Homo sapiens: one gene and its partners. The protein of the gene in region 3 interacts with the protein of the main gene of each other region in a biochemical or structural test. Each region holds a gene or a part of one and is shown on either strand. Other genes may lie near its edges. The genes, in order: KHDRBS1, ABL1 and SORBS1.

Region 1 (3,407 bases), on a different chromosome or scaffold from region 3:
TGGCTCTCTTAGGGAAGCCATGAGAACCCTGAGAATCAGCATAGAGTTGAAATGGGACCAACCAATTCCATCACTTCCTCTCTTGGTCTCTTAGGAGGGGGTTCAGAGCCAGCCTATCATGCCAAATCCTGCCCCAGCCCAGCTGAGTTATCAGCATTTCTGGGATTGAAAGAGAAACCCTCAAGGGCACCCAGAGTTGGCTGAACTGTCATGCCTAAAGGCAGATGCTGTCCCCTTCTGAGCTCACAGAAATTATTTGGTGTCACACTTTAGAGCCACCTAGGGGTTCTACAGAAGGTGCAAACCAGGCTGGCTTGCACTTTTAAATACTGAGACCTATCTATGGAAACCAATCCAAGTTTCAGCTCAGTTGAGTTGAAAACTCTCCATAAATTAGAATTTTTGATAGGATTGGATACAACAGCTTCCAACAACTTCCAGGGGGTGAAAAAGCTTTGGTTATTTTTAAACTAAAACTTAACAACTCCATCAACTTTTTTTTGGTAAACTTAAAATAAAATCCCCCCCACCACTTTTAAGAATGTTTCCAACTTTTAACAAGCCCATTAACTTTAGAGTTAATTTAAGTTTATTTGAAAGAGAAAACTATTTTATGGTCCACCCAAAAAAATGACAATTCATCACATTTACTTTGATTAAAAAAGGACTAAACTTTATTGACAAACTGCTGCAGACATTTTGACATAAGTTTAAGCTACCTATTTAGGCAGACTTACACATGTAGCATTTAATCTTCCGAGAACAAAATGGGAGGACGGTACAAATCCAATTAGGACTTTAACTTATGTACAAAGTGGATTTTGATTCCTTTTTCATTCAGCTGCAGTGTCCCTTTTTATATCATGCTAGTGTTGAGACATACTTGACTAACTTGGGAACAGTTCGATATATTGACAACCGTCAACTTAAGAAAATCAACAGCTTTTGGCCCCAGCGTCCAAGTGAACTTTTCATGGAGTGCAGAATCTCAAATGGACAAAATACTTTGTCTTTTTAAATACTGAAAATTTAATTATTAGTACTATGACTGAAAGATTCTTCATGGCTAAAAAGCTCTGCATCAAACTCAATTCAGGAGGCCTTCCCTCCCCACCACCATCAACCTCTTCAAAACCTACTCCCTCCCTCTAAGTATCTCTCAACACAGTATGTCTGGGGCTAGATTTCAAAACCCACGTAATGAAAAAGTCAGTTTTACAAGCCTAATTTTGTTGTTTTTTTTTTTATATCAATTAACGTTAAAAATTGCATCAACTATTTAATTCATGAGGATCTTTCATATTAAAATTTAACCTTAAGATTCAACCGCCATGTGCTTTTATAAAGGAAACATTTTTTAGAGACGTCTGAGCTCACTTTTACATGGTGGTGCCTACTGCCGTTAATGTTTGTGATTTTAAATCTTAAACAGCCCTGAATTTTGAAATGTAGCCTAGTTTGGGATTCTGCAACTACAACTTTACGGGATGCCTCAAATCAAAACTAAGAGAAACTTAACAAGCCTTTACTTCAGAACCTTTAAGCAAGCAATGTCATTTTTGAAACTAACAGGTTTGTGTGTTTTTTTTTTTTACTCAACTTCTTTTTTTTATTATAAAAGGTACACTTCTGTTTATATTTAAACAACAAAGAAAAAAGCATCTACACACTTAAAAAATTAATTCAATATTCCTAAATCTATTTTAACTCATTTTAAAATACTACATACAGAAGCCAGAATGCAGAGTTAAGAATGGAATAAGGTGGGGAGAAGAAGGGGACCACGAAGAAAAACACTTAGACAATTACTTGTCTGTTGTGGGTAAAGCAACAGGAATCCTGGGAGATACAAGAAATCAGTAACAACTTTGCTCATAACTGATATTTTCCCCTCATGTTTGTTTTTAATAACGTCCATATGGGTGCTCTCTGTATGCTCCCTTCACTGGCCTAGCAGGAGGGGCCTTCAGCGACGGCCTGGTCCCATTCCAGTCGTCCTGGCCTGTGGGGAAAACAAAGACAGTTTATAAACCATGTGGCGACAGCACTTAGGGATAAGCAGGGATAGGTCACATAGTAAAGATCACCAAAAACACTGAGTTTCTTCTAATGTCTTGACACTTCCCCTGGTGTTCCTTGCTCTCTACTTGGCTTGGCCCTCTTGGGCAGCCTGGGCAATTTTTCAGTTTTGAGTGGAAGGACAGAAGGGAACAAATCTAAAAAGGCTGCCATTGACTCTGGAGTAATCTCCCACAACGAGGTTCTTCATAGACAAATGTGATCTGTACGCCAGTCCCCAAACCTGGAGATACCCAACACCTTGCTTGAGATAGTGAGGAACTCATTAATCTTAGTGAGTCTGCAATGGCCTTTCCTGTTCCCAAAACAATTTGGCAGGCACCCTCAGGTAAGGTGGGAAGACTTCTGGAAGTCTTTCAGATTGGAAGCAGGCAGCCAGCCCCACTTCCATGCAACAGCAAGTCACGTTTCCTTACGGAGAAGTGTCCTCTAGCTCCCTGGGAAAACCAAGCAAGGGCCACTTTCCATGGGGCCCTCCACCAGCAGAGCTGATACTGCTCTCTCTGGTAGAGGGATGTGCAATCAAATGTTGCACTGACAGCACTGTTTAAGATAATTCCAAGGCTGCATGCGGTGGCTCACGCCCGTAATCCCAGCACTTTGGGAGGCCAAGGCAGGCAGATCACAAGGTCAGGAGTTCGAGACCAGCCTGACCAACAGGGTGAAACCCCATCTCTACTAAAAATACAAAAATTAGCCAGGCGTGGTGGCGCATGCCTGTAATCCCAGCTACTCAGGAGGCTGAGGCAGGAGAAGTGCTTGAACCTGGGAGGCAGAGGTTGCAGTGAGCTGAGATTGTGCCACTCCACTCCAGCCTGGACAACAGAGCCAGACTCCATCTCAAAAAAAAAAAAAAAAAAAAAAAAGGATAATTCCTTATCTCCTTTCTTAAGTCAACAGGTGAGAGAAGCCAGAAGCCAGACAATGTGGTTCACATCCTCAAATGGTTCTCCTTTGTGACAGGGAAAAGCCTGAGGAATATGATCACATAATTCTAGAGGTGACCTCTTATGAAAATAAATTGCGTTAAATTTATTCTTCCCACACCTTACACACGCTAGTTCATCCCTGAAGTATTTTTCCAGCTGCCTGTATTCACAAGTATCTGCCTCCATCTCTATAGGCCTCAAACTCCTATACAGATCTAAAGTCACACAGAACCCTAATTATACCCCTAGTATAACACACATGTCCATCACTTTCCAAGTGGCTTCTGGGTATCAACAAGACAGTTTCTTTTTCTTTTTTTCCTGACGTATACAGATCATCCTGGACAGTTTATTTCTCTAATTCTGTTAATCAAAGCAGAGATCAGAACGGATTAACTG
Region 2 (3,652 bases), on a different chromosome or scaffold from region 3:
GGGGTACTGGAATTTGAACTCATGCTATCTGGCTTGGGAGAGCCCACTTTTAGCCACTGGATGCTCTACTGATGTCTCTTTTGGAATTCACTGTGATTTTCAAAATGGTATCTCCAGAAACTCCTCCAATTAATCCCTGAAATGTAAGGGTAGTCTCTTTTTCTTTTCTAGAAACCTGATCCTGGCAAAATGATTAGCTTTAACAGTAGGATTAATTTTTTTTAAATGTATATAAAAATACTTGTATGTAAGAAATCCTAAAAGGGTATTTAGTGAAAAGTAATTCCCTCTCCTATTCATTTTCCCCACCTAGAGGCAATCACCCTGGAGTTTTATGTGTGTCCTTCTAGAAATACTGTGTGCACATATAAGCATTTATTATAACATGTGAATTTTGCTCTCCAGCTTTTTGTGAATATGCATGTTTATAGCAGTATCTATTCACCAGGACCGCATTTAGCTTTGCAATATTCGGTCTACTTTGAACACTGAATTTTCTGATTATTTCTTTCCCCTGGAGACGTCAAAGAAAACATGAACACTAGCCTTTTGAATTCAGGGTTTTCTTTTCATTTTATTTTCATTTGTTCATGTGTTTGTATTTACATACATTGTGCCTGAATATTGTACATGTATGTGACAGTTGTGTACTGTAGAATCAAAAACTAATGTCTGTGAACTGAACTCTTCTTGAACTTTTTGTTGTTGTTGTTATTGTTGCTTTTGGAGATAGGGTCTTGCTCTGTCACCCAGGCTGGACTGCAGTGGCACAATCACAGCTCACTGCAGCCTTGAGCTCCTGGTCTCAAGCAACCCTCCCACCTCAGCCTCCCAAGTAGCTGGGGCTGCAGGCATATGCTACCTGACTAATTAAAATTTTTTTTTTTTTTTTGTAGAGACAGGGTCTCACTATTTTTACTAGTTTGCCCGGGCCAAGCCAGTGTTGAACTACTGGCCTCAAGTGATCCTCCCACCTTGGCCTCCCCAAAGTGCATCCCTACAGGCATGAGCCACTGCACTCAGCCTGAACTTTCGAAATTTATTTTAAGGGCCCACTTTTAAATGCTTCTTTTCAGCAGCTAACTTTCCAGCGGATGCTTCATGTGGTGCCAGCCATACAGATACGCTTTTAGAACTTGAGCTTTGGAGAAGCTTATGCTTGCTTTCTGCTCTCTCCTGAGGTCATCAGATACTTCCCTTGTTCAGTAACAAAGAAAGTGAGACTCTTTCTGTTACCTAATAAAAGGCCAGTCTGTCCATTTCATTTTGGGTGCTATTAACATTGTTGACCATTTACAATGTCACAGGCCCTGGCACTGAGCACATCATGTGCAGCCTCACTTAATTTTCACACCAGTGCCCTGAGGTTTCTAGAAAAGAGGAAGGGCCCCAGTTTAGGTGGCAGTACTTTTCAATTTGGAGGCAGGAGATCCCAGTTTTCCTCTGACCTCTCTGAGCTTCCGTGTTTTTACCTCTAAGACAGAGAGACCAATCTCTGTTCAGCCACCTTAGAGGATTGTTTTGAGGGTCTATAAGATGATTGAGGGAAAGCTCTGAAACTGGTAAGAGTTAAATGTATGTTTGTGTTATGTTGATACGAGATTCCTCTGAGATGCTCTTTAGTCCAGGCAGGTTTATGGCTCACACAGCGTTCCTAGGGTCTCATTCTTCTGCACAGGCAGGCAGCTCCCGAGCCAGCCAGTCTGGACCCAAATGCCACCTGTGCTCTTGGCTGGTCTTGCGCATTCACCGAGGCTCACTGTACCTTGGTGTTCCCATTTCTAAAATAAGGCCTGTAGTAATCCCTACCTCACTGAGTTGTTGAGAGACTTCATGTAAATTGTTTAGCAGGGAGCCTGGCACAGAACAAGAGCCTAGCAGAAAAGTAAGCTGTTGTTACTTTAAGCAAATATTTAGCAGCCTAAAATGGTGGCTTTACCAGTTTCTGTAATGGTTGAAGTGATGACAGAATTCAGCCAATCCCACCCATAGTTTTTCTTGCTAATAAAGCAGTTTGTTTCTAAGTGTGTTTTGATGCGTATAATTAATACTTCCTGTCCTTGATTTTTGGCTGAAAAATGTCTTCTCTTCCTCGCACCCTCTGTTATTCCCGTAGTGAATATTTTCATTGTGGAAGAGAAATTCCCATTGGCTCATGGTTGGCATTTTATTTCTCCTGTCCAGAGACAATATTTCCACAGCCTCAAACGTGAAAACTGAAAATCTGGTGCCACTTACCACCTTGTAAAATCAAGTCATTGTAATTGTGCCAGTATAATCATTGATCTGAAATAAAAGCAGAAAATAAATCAATGGGTAGCTTTCTTAAATACATAAGAACTAAAGATCAAATGGGATATTGGAAGACTTTAACTTTTCCTCCATAATGGTGGATCTTAATTAAACACACAGAAGAACAATTTATAAAATAAATTCATAGGTTTGTTTGTTCTTTTTTAGTGTCAATTTTTAAAACTATCTCTTTTTTAATTAAAAAAAATAGAGATGGGTCTCACTATGTCGCCCAGGCTGGTCTCAAACTCCTGGGCTCAAGCAATCCTCCCACCTCAGCCTCCCAAAGTGCTGGGATTACAGGCATGAGCCACTGCACCCAGCCTAAAACTGTCTCAAAAGTAGACAGCATAATGAACTCCCATGTACTTATGATGTGGCTTTAACAATTATCAGCTTATAGTCAGTCTTGTTTTCTTACATAATAAAGTTACAGTTTCAAAGCCATTAGGAAGAATAGCTTGCTAATTATAATTACTTAGTTTTGATAGTGTAACTTTGTCCTCAGATGGGTAGAATCGTTACTCTGGAACAGGGGTGTCCAATCTTGGCTTCCCTGGGCCACATTGGGAGAAAAATTGTCTTGGGCCACACGTAAAACATACTAACGATAGCTGATGAGCTAAACCAACAAAACAAATCCCACAAAAATCTCATTTCTTTTTTTTTTTGAGACAAGAGTCTCACTCTGTCGCCCAGACTGGAGTGCAGTTGCACGATCTCAGCTCACTGCAAGCTCCGCCTCCTGGGTTCACGCCATTCTCCTGCCTCAGCCTCCCTAGTAGAGGGTACTACAGGCGCCCGGGGGTTTCACCATGTTAGCCAGGATGGTCTCCATCTCCTGACCTCGTGATCCGCCCACCTCGGCCTCCCAAAGCCCTGGGATTACAGGCGTGAGCCACTGCACCGGGCCAAAAATCTTATAATGTTTTTAAGAAAGTTTGCAAATTTGTTAGGCCACATTCAAAGCCGTCCTGGGCCATATGCAGCCCGTGGGCCATGGGTTGAACAAGCTTGCTCTAGAAATTGGTTTTCAGGCCGGGCGCGGTGGCTGACGCCTGTAATCCCAGCACTTTGGGAGGCCGAGGCAGGTGGTCACCTGAGGTCAGGAGTTCGAGACCAGCCTGGCCAACATGCTGAAACCCTGTCTCTACTAAAAATATAAAAAATTAGCCAGGCGTAGTGGGGAGTGCCTGTAATCCCAGCTACTCAGGAGGCTAAGGCAGGAGAATTACTTGAACCTGGGAGGCAGAGGTTGCAGTGAGCCGCGATCTCACCATTGTACTCCAGCCTGGGCAACGAGCAAAAACTCCAGCTCAAAAAAAAAAGTTGGTTTTCAAATCCTTCTTTCTTTACCATG
Region 3 (3,652 bases):
TTGAGTTCCCTGCATCCTTACAAAGAAGAATGTCCCACTCCAGTCACACACTCTGTCCTATAAGACAACAGGATGCGGCTATCACTGTCCAGGAAGCCCTGGGTCAGCCCGTTTAATGCTTTCTGCCAAGAACCCTCTACTGGGGTCAGTGATGAGCAGGTGGCAGAGGAGGAAACAATTAGAGGACCAGACAAGAGGCACCATCTCAGGGTCAACCTGGGCCCCCAGGTCCTACTCTTGTTCCTCTGCCAACCTCCTTACAACATACATGGTGGTTTGTCCAGGCTCTTTCACAGGGATGTCACCCCCACCGTGTCACCCTGAACTCAAGGTTCTGACATTTTCTTGGCTTTGGGAAAGTGGGGATCAGTTAGGAATAGTTTATATTTCTAAACAAGTTTGTTCATAATTAATGTTTGGGAAAGCCAACATCTTATTACGCCTATAAACCTATATCCTTTCAGCCCACAGAGACTGAGATGCTGTAAGTTACTTGTTCCAATCACCTGGTTCCAGTGAATGCAAATAATACTTTGGATCTGGTCTATATGGCTGATGAGAAGGTGTAAGTCTCTCTTTCAGCCTTTGTCTTCTGCAGGTCAACTTTGGCCAAGATGACTGAGGACCGCATTTGGACCATGGGATTTATGACACAGTGGTGGTACCCACACCAACAGCTTCACCCAAGAGGGGCCAACTGATAAAGGCTCTTGTTTCTCTGTTTCTCTTTCCCTAGTCACCTTATTCCCAGAGCAATTACTTGACTATTCCTTTTCCCTTGAGATATATCTGCAACCAAGCACTGGAAAAGGCCATTTGTATGCATAAAGACAAAGTCCAGTGTACAGTCTGCTTTCCTGCAGTTTTTTTTTTTTTGAGATGGAGTCTCGCTCTGTCGTCCAGGCTGGAGTGCAGTGGCATGATCTCGGCTCACTGCAACCTCTGCCTCCCAGGTTTAAGCGATTCTCCTGCCTCAACCTCCCGAGTAGCTGGGACTACAGGCGCCCGCCACCACGCCTGGCTAATTTTTGAATTTTTGGTAGAGATGGGGTTTCACCATGTTGCCAGGCTGATCTTGAACTCCTGACCTCAGGTGATTCACCCGCCTCGGCCTCCCAAAGTGCTGGGATTACAGGCATGAGCCACCACACCCGGCCTCCTGCAGACAGTTTTTAATTGCAGTGCTCAAAAACCTCCCCAGAGAGGCTGTGTGCCATCAGCACTGTTGACTACAAAAATTCACATGCTGAGTATGAAAACCAGTGACGAGAAGCTTAGATACCTGTGGGCTTGCAGTGGCACTGCGACTTGGGGAGGAGGAGAAAGGCAGGTCCATGTAATCCACAGGGTTTTTCACCAGTGGTCGCTTGATCACATCCACGTAGGTGATGGGGAAGATGCCTTGTCGGGATGTCCCCGGGATCCTCCCTTCGTACCAGTTCTCATCTACCTGCCGGAGCAGTGTGATCCTCTCACCCTGGAAGACACAGCAAAGAGAGGGTCCTTGTCCTAGCATGCCTCTGCATGCCTGGGGCCTCTGCCTGCATGCTTCAATGTCCTGCATTGTTTATCACATCCTTAGCTCAGGAAAAACCTTCCCTGCTGAACCTGGAGGGAATTAACACCACTGGGATGAGGATGCTAATGGCAGAGGAGCTATCTTGATGCTGGGAAGTTCAGCTTGGTTCTTTAAGTATTTTAGTAAAGGAGAACATCAGATTTGTGTCCCTAAGCCAGGGAACAAATGTAGTGTTTTTGACTCATTTAATGTGAAACAGATACCCAATCTTCATTTCTAAGGCAAAGATTTTGGGGGGTTTCACTTTTTCTTTCTTTTGTAGCATTATAGATACTTATAATGTATCATTATAGAAAAATCAGAACACAAACGTAAAGCAGAAAACAATCATCACCCATCACATAGTCATTTGGGGATAAACACTTAATATTTGGCATATGGACTCCCCAGATTTACTTCTATGCATGTGAATTAAACCTGCACATATTTTTTCTTATAAAAATTGAGTATGAACTGTGTTTCCCTTTTCCAACTTGCTTTTTAAAAAATACTTAATAGCACATAGTAAACCTCCTTCTTTATCAAGAAATAGAATTCTAGATTTTTAATGGCATTGCATAGCTTAATGGACCACTGCAGGGTATTCTGTCGCACACACATATAATGATTTAATTACTGATCCCCTGCTGTTGGGCAACTGGGTTGCTTCCAGTGCTTTTTCTAACAATGTGCTCACTTCCCTCAAGCCTCAATAAAATCAGTAACTTAGTAACTTTAGCAAGCCAGAGAATTTTGCCATGTAGAGTGTTTGGATTCTGGAAAGAACAACTTCTCTGCACAATGTAATTATGTTCTGAATAAGCATGATGGTGATAATAATAATACTGGCATCTCCTGTTTACTAAGCACCAACAAGATACCATGTGTCATGCTGGGGGCTTCACATAAGTTGTTTCACCGAAGCCTCTTACAACCACCTAGGAGAGAGCCATCTATCTTCATTTTTTTTCTATAAGAAAATGGTGGCTTGGAAAAAGTATTTAACTCCCACATTCTGCGTAGTTGGTTTGTGCCTTTTGGGTTCAAAGCTTTTCAAACTTCTCCTGGTATCAATGGACCTGTTTTTTCCACTAGGTCACACCAATATATTGTAAAACCCAGTCCCCAACACAATGCATTATGACATCATTAGTTGGTAAGTGTTGGTTGAAAACAGCTTATAAAAGATGTCTAAGACTCCAGAAATACTATGTTTAATCAGTGAGCTCAATATAGTTAAACCCTGATATTAGCCTAGGGTTTATTTTAAAAATACCTTACCTCAGAAAATTCTCCAATTGCCCTTAATGCAATTCTTTTTTTTTTTTTCTTCAGTAGAGATGGGGCCTTGCTACGTTGCTCAGGCTGGTCTTGAACCCCTGGCCTTAAGCGAGCCTCCTGCCTTGGTTTCCCAAAGTGCTGGGATTACAGGCCTTAATGCAATTCTTTTTTTTTTTTTTGGAGACCTATTGCCCAGGCTGGAGTGCAGTGGAGCGATCTCAGCTCACTGCAACCTCTGTCTCCCAGGTTCAAATGATTCTCCTGCCTCAGCCTCCTGAATAGCTGGGATTACAGGAACCCACTACCATGCCCAGCTAATTTTTGTATTTTTAGTAGAGACGGGGTTTCACCATGTTGGCCAGGCTAGTCTCAAACGCCTGACCTCAAGTGATCTACCCACCTCGGCCTCCCAAAGTGCTGGGATTACAGGCATGAGCCACCGTGCCCAGCCCTTAATGCAATTATTGATTGGCATACTTCTCTTAAGGGTACAGACAGCACCCCCAGACTGGGGTGTGATAGCAACACCACGCTTCCCCACATAGCTGCGCCATCCAAGAGAGCCCCAAAGCAAGGCATGAGAAGTGCAGCTTACCTTTCTGAAGGACATTTCTACTTGTGTATCACCATTAAAGTTAAACTTAGCAATAGCTTCTCCATATTCCAAAACCTGCACTGGTGTCAACTTTTTGGGCTGTGCCTTCTCAGCAGGAGGAAGAAGCTGAGAAAGGGAAAGAGGTAAAAGAGAACAAGGGAAGAGAAGAAAGCAGGGAAACAAGAGGAAAAGGAGGAAACAAAACATAAGCATTTGGT

What was found.
Region 1: the proteins of SORBS1 (region 3) and KHDRBS1 interact in a test that uses a peptide from one of them, tested with the Homo sapiens proteins (one study listed by BioGRID).
Region 2: of the proteins of SORBS1 (region 3) and ABL1, one has a biochemical effect on the other in vitro, tested with the Homo sapiens proteins (one study listed by BioGRID).

The regions. Positions count from the first base shown.
Region 1 is NC_000001.11:32,041,122-32,044,528, reverse strand, and holds the end of KHDRBS1 (KH domain-containing, RNA-binding, signal transduction-associated protein 1), read right to left. Parts: intron 2,003-3,407; coding exon 1,905-2,002; 3' UTR 652-1,904; downstream 1-651. UniProt on the Homo sapiens protein: Recruited and tyrosine phosphorylated by several receptor systems, for example the T-cell, leptin and insulin receptors. Once phosphorylated, functions as an adapter protein in signal transduction cascades by binding to SH2 and SH3 domain-containing proteins.
Region 2 is NC_000009.12:130,838,202-130,841,853, forward strand, and holds part of ABL1 (tyrosine-protein kinase ABL1), read left to right. Parts: intron 1-3,652. UniProt on the Homo sapiens protein: Non-receptor tyrosine-protein kinase that plays a role in many key processes linked to cell growth and survival such as cytoskeleton remodeling in response to extracellular stimuli, cell motility and adhesion, receptor endocytosis, autophagy, DNA damage response and apoptosis.
Region 3 is NC_000010.11:95,337,851-95,341,502, forward strand, and holds part of SORBS1 (sorbin and SH3 domain-containing protein 1), read right to left. Parts: intron 3,561-3,652; coding exon 3,435-3,560; intron 1,478-3,434; coding exon 1,283-1,477; intron 1-1,282. UniProt on the Homo sapiens protein: Plays a role in tyrosine phosphorylation of CBL by linking CBL to the insulin receptor. Required for insulin-stimulated glucose transport. Involved in formation of actin stress fibers and focal adhesions.